Regions from separate parts of the Homo sapiens genome. Here region 2 is linked to region 1. Evidence: fine-mapped expression QTL. A gene starts in region 1. The other region holds a variant in brackets. All regions are shown on one strand. Distances are from middle to middle. Region 1 holds the start of DPP4 (dipeptidyl peptidase 4). Region 2 overlaps LOC101929532 (a long non-coding RNA gene).

Region 1 (2,890 bases):
TTCTATTTTGCAAGAAAAAAGAGATGGCCCAATGTAAGATCTACACTGACTCATCAGTGGTGGCTAATGTGTTGGCCAGCTGCTACCTTAAGGATTTGGAAAAAACAAGATTGAAAGACTGGTGACACAGAGGTCAAGGTGGGGGAGGCATGTGAGAGAGTCTCTTGAAATGGGCACAGGGTGTGAAGATATTTGCGTCTCATGGAGTGCCCTCCAGAGAACAAATTGACCTGTCCCGTAGATGTCAGCCAGCCTCCTGCCAGCTTCCTTGGGGCTTGCTGAATGTACAATGAGTGCCATGGTGCTGGCATGGAGATGAAGCACAGGCTTAACTCTCCAGACTTCCTTCACCGAGGCTGATGTGGCTTACCAATGCTGAGTGAGCAAAATGCTGAGAGTGAAGGGCAGCACTGAGCCCCCTGTGGCACCATTCCCCGTAGTCCGTGTTAAATGGCCTCTCTTCACAGCATCAGTTCACAGGGTCCAGTAACACCATTGACTCATCTTCCTCAGCAGTTGGAAGAGGGAGGAGGAGAGTTAGTTTCAGCCTCTGGAGTTGGGGGTGAGTGAGGATACTGATGTATCACAAGCAACTAGTGGGCAAGGGGGAAAAGATGACTGAGTTCAAAAGCAATGCCTGGATTGGAAATAAAAGATGGAAAATTGCATTAATTCATAATCATGTGGTAATGCCCCATCGGACTCTGCATTCTTAATCTTTTACCTCTACTGACAGAGAGGCTTTGCTTTTCAGCTGCTGTGAACAAGCTGAAGAGGCCTTATCCTCTTATCTGCAAGAGTGGAAGTAATCACAGGGGGCCCTAAAGGCAAATGTTTACCTGTGTATTTTATCGTGAAAGTGCCAAGGGTCCAGACCTCACCTCTCTTGTCCCACTTTATCTCCAGTACCTAGAAGGGAGGCTGGCACATTGTAACCACTCAAACATCTGTGGATGACTGGAATAAATGGGAGGATGTAGGAATGAATGAACGAATGAATAATCCTTTAGGGAACAATAGAGAGCTGGGGGAGGGAGAAGCCATACCTGATCTTTTATTCTTCTCCAAAACCCTTGAAAAGACTATGAGAGGCCGCATAGAGTAGCCATTAAGACCTTGAACTCTTAATTTAGGATCTACAACTTCCTAGCTGAATGGCTTGGCCAAGTTATTTATTCTCTGTGTACAGTCTTCCTTCCTGTAAAACAAACACAGTAAATGCTTAGAGCAGCACCTGGGAAAAAGTCAAGTTCCACATAAGTGTTACTGTCATTATTTTTGTCATCTTGATGAGTGTGTAAGCCTGCAAGACAATCGGGAAATTCCCTAGGGAGGGTGAATCCAGATACTCAGCTTCCAAGGGCCATTCAAGAGGGAACAATCACCTTTTCTCTTTGCCTTTCATACTGCTTTAGACCCCTCACTGCTTCCTAACATAACTTTCACTGGCAAGAGACGGAGTCCTGGGTTTCAGTTCCAGTTGCCTGCGGTGGGCTGTGTGAGTTTGCCAAAGTCCCCTGCCCTCTCTGGGTCTCGGTTCCCTCGCCTGTCCACGTGAGGTTGGAGGAGCTGAACGCCGACGTCATTTTTAGCTAAGAGGGAGCAGGGTCCCCGAGTCGCCGGCCCAGGGTCTGCGCATCCGAGGCCGCGCGCCCTTTCCCCTCCCCCACGGCTCCTCCGGGCCCCGCACTCTGCGCCCCGGCTGCCGCCCAGCGCCCTACACCGCCCTCAGGGGGCCCTCGCGGGCTCCCCCCGGCCGGGATGCCAGTGCCCCGCGCCACGCGCGCCTGCTCCCGCGCCGCCTGCCCTGCAGCCTGCCCGCGGCGCCTTTATACCCAGCGGGCTCGGCGCTCACTAATGTTTAACTCGGGGCCGAAACTTGCCAGCGGCGAGTGACTCCACCGCCCGGAGCAGCGGTGCAGGACGCGCGTCTCCGCCGCCCGCGGTGACTTCTGCCTGCGCTCCTTCTCTGAACGCTCACTTCCGAGGAGACGCCGACGATGAAGGTGAGTGCCGCGCCACGTACGTCCCCGGGGCGAGCTGTGGGGACCTCTTCGCCAAACTCCCCAAATGGCCCAAAAGCTGGCGAAACCGGACCAGGGACTCCCCTTAGGCGGAAGCCCCAAGGCCACCCTCTGACAGGTGAAGGGACGTCCCAGAGCTCTCGCTTAGCTTTCGGACCCTGGCTTCTGCTAGGACCCTGGCGTCGAGCTTTGAATGTCCCGGAGAGCCACTCACAGAACGCACGCCCGAACCCGGGCAGGGGTAGAGAAACCAACGCTAATGTGCTCTGAAGGCACAAGTTCAAGGGCACCCGCCTTAGAGAACTCCAACTGGCGCACTCCAGACGCCACCCCCACCCCCAGCCCGCGGTCTCCCTCTTCTAACGCACTCCCACCTGCAAATCCTGCTGCCTCTGGAGCAGCCCCGACCCTCCTACGGAAACTGGGGCCACACGCTTCCCTCTAATTGGACTTGATCTGCTCGGCTTGCAGACACCGTGGAAGGTTCTTCTGGGACTGCTGGGTGCTGCTGCGCTTGTCACCATCATCACCGTGCCCGTGGTTCTGCTGAACAAAGGCAGTAAGTTTGAAACATTTGAAAAAGATAGGACAGTTGGAGCTCAGGTCAGGCTCCGTCTTACCACGCTAAGGGAAACGAGGGATTTTGCGTGGGGTTGGACCAGTGCCCCGAAGTGTAGCTGAGAAGGCTTCCCAGTTGTTGTTGCTGCTTGTAGAGCAGCAGCTGGATTCACTTCGCGGGGTCTTCAGTGTTTAGGCTGAAACTCTTGCGGCTTTCACGTCTTGTTATGTATAATAAATGCATGCTTCCTGAAATTAGGGAGAGTCGGGATTTTTAAAATTTCAATTTTAAATTTAATTTGTAAATT
Region 2 (2,909 bases), 45 kb before region 1:
ATTTTCTTCTCTCCTCTCTCATCAGTGTATCCTCTCTTTTTTGTCTGTATTGTCTGGTAAAACCTTTCATCATCCTATTGTCTTTGTAGCTAATGCCCATTCTTTTCCTTACCTTAAGAAAAAAAAGTAACAAAACAAAACACAGCTCTTTGAAAAAGCTGTTTATCATTGCCTCTAATTTAGCTGTTCCTGCTCTCTGTTGAACCTACTCTAATTGAAATTTATTTCATTTTTTCCCCCAATTTGCTCCTATCAAGCTCACCAGTAACTTCCACATTGCTAAATCCAGTGCTCAATTCTCAGGCTTCATCTTCCTTGAAAAGAATTTGACATTTGACAGAATTTTTCACTCTCTCCCTCTTAGAAACTCTCCTCACCTGGCTTCCAGAATATGTTGCTGTCTTGGGTTTCCTCTGTGTGACAGCTATGAAGGAAGAAAAGAGCAGAGTGTTGGTTGGAATTGCACAGGTCTCCGTATTCATTAGGAGATTAGGTCAGAAAGAAAAGCAGTTGAAGAGAGAAGGCTCAGGTGGCTCACTTGGGACTGAAAGAGAGCGAGAAAATGACCTTTGCATGACGTGACAGGAAGACATTGAGCCTGATAAGATCATCTCAGTGAGCAGATGGATATTGACATTCAGCACATCAGGTCCTGAAGATCAAGGATCTAAGCAAAAAGCCAAGAGATGCAGCAATGACAGGGAAGGGTAAAGATAAGGGTAATAATATCAAAAATCCCAACTTCAGCGTGGTAACCAGATTGTACTAATGCATATATATGTACTACCATGCATATATTTACTGTCTAACTTTTACAAAGTGTTTTCACATCTATTAATTGATTTCTTCACAGTATCCCTAGGCAACACAACTATTGTTATCCTAATTATATAGATGAAGAAACTGAGGCTTGCAGAGGTTAAAACAACTGTCTAAGATTATACCAGGAATTTTAACAGAGTTGGGACTAGAAGCCTGATCCAGAAAAATCAAGAAGCAGTTCCCAGGCAGTTTCTTTCTAACACAGAAATCCTGGGCAACTGAGTCAGAAGCATCTGATGGCTTGGTCCAGAGAGACCAGAGAATCAGCATCAGATCTTGAGACTGGGTGCCAGGTATGGATGGCACAGGGCTGGGTGGAAATATGTAGCAATACTGACAAGCCAGCGTCTGTGTAAAGGGCACTTTATGAAGGCCAGGATCCCAGTAGAAGGAGATGAGCTGAGCTGAGCTGAGCTGAGACAGGTAGCCTTAGCAGGTGGGTTCACCTGATTGAGGGGGTACAGTGGAGGTAGAGGAAGACAAGTAATATCTGACAATCATCCCAAAGAATAAATGAACCCACAATTCTCTGTGGAAAATCTGATGTTTAGTTCCCAGAGTTGTTAGGCCTCCAGCCTAGGGAAGAGGAAAATATTTGATGTTTGATAGCCATTGGAGACTGAGTGAGAGATGGGAAAGATAGATTTTTTCCCTCTTAAATTCATCATTTGAGGAATTTTAAACAGTCCATGGAAAGTGCATAATCCTCACAAAGTAGAGGAATAAACAAGTTATTTCCTTGACCTGCCATTTGTCACTCTCGTTGGAACAGGATTTTTGAAATTTCCAGTATAAGAAGTATATTGAACAAGCATGGCCCATTGTGAAATCACAGCACTCCCCTTCAAGTGTTCAGTGGAGTTAA[C/T]CTTCCCTTGCCCCAGTTGAACATTCACGTGCATCCCAGGACTTTTCTAGATACTCTTGGGTGTGTATGTGAGGACAAGAACGTCCTACAATCCCTTTAGTAACAAGTGAGTGGAATTCAGTAATCAGAACATCTTACATAACCAGAAACTGAAACTGATTTAGCACTAAACCTTTTCCTGTCCCTGTTCCTTGGCTGCTCCGCTGTGGATGGCTTATTCTCTATTCCTCACCTAGTGCTTTCCCTCCTCCCTTCTGATGCCCTCCCCGCAGCTTGCCAGCCAGTTTCTGGGCTAAGGCCAGAGCTAGAAGAGAGACATGGTAAAGGGCCAGGAAATGTCCTTCTTGTACTGGCTTCGGGCTTTCCAGGCCTGGCAAATGTTTGCAGATGAGTCTTTCTTTCATGGGCACTTTCACGGGCATCCTGTAGGTTCCCTGGTGGGCCCCTGCCCTGCAGTCCTGTCCTGGGTTAATGCATCCTATTATGGGTGGCCCAAGGTAGGTAGGGTGACCAACTATCCCAGCTTGTCCAGGAATATTCCCATTTTAGCCTAAAGGGCCCACATCTTGTGAAACTTCTGAGATCCGGGCAAACCAGAATGGTTAGTCAGGGGTTACTCATGAGTCCTTCTGTAGCCCTTAATTATCTGATATTAACTTCAACTTCTGGCTTCTGGCCCTTCAACCATCTAGGGTCCTTGTACAAATTCATAAAAAACCCACACTGACTCACTTGCCCAATCACCCCACACATAGCTAGTCCACAGAAAATATTCCTTTGCCTTTGAAATCTGAAGGTATAAGCTTTCCATCCTGCCTGAATTCAATATTTGTGAAAGTCATCTCCATGTGCATAGGCAAAGCAGCTCGCTGGCCTCCCTTCCCCTTTTCTGGAGAGAATTCAGGATTGTCCTGGGCCCATTTGAATGGATTCATTCCCATCACCTCTGAGAAGGCTTGGCAATGGCCAAGGGGCCTCAAGGGGTACCCAGTCTGGGCTTCTTGGAAAGATGCATATTATTTGTAGATGTGGTCAAATCTGCTATCACCCTTATGCTGTATCTGCTGAGCCTACAAATTACAAATTTCCCTAACCATGGAGGCCCCTATCTAGGTCTGTTTTATATGGTGATAATAAATACCTTACTGATTAAATCACCTTTTAAAAACACTAATTTTAGGCTGGGCGCAGTGGTTCATACCTGTATTCCCAGCACTTTGGG

The links. PIP is the estimated chance that this variant, and not a neighbour inherited with it, causes the effect.
Region 2: its variant is fine-mapped to the expression of DPP4 in lung (TOPMed, PIP above 0.99).

Annotation. Positions count from the first base shown.
Region 1 is chr2:162,073,092-162,075,981 of GRCh38, reverse strand. It overlaps DPP4 (dipeptidyl peptidase 4), which reads left to right and starts at 1,767. Exons shown (of 26, transcript NM_001935.4): 1 at 1,767-2,006; 2 at 2,496-2,583. The coding sequence starts at 2,001. It overlaps DPP4-DT (DPP4 divergent transcript), which reads right to left and starts at 1,125. Exons shown (of 3, transcript NR_147697.1): 1 at 1,047-1,125; 2 at 371-504. RefSeq lists a promoter at 1-1,362, enhancers at 917-1,614, 2,049-2,248 and a silencer at 1,639-1,898.
Region 2 is chr2:162,117,748-162,120,656 of GRCh38, reverse strand. The region is part of intron 1 of LOC101929532 (a long non-coding RNA gene); the gene reads right to left. Among named protein-coding and RNA genes, the nearest start is that of GCG, 33 kb to the left of the region's middle. The variant C/T (reference allele first, on the strand shown) is at 1,688.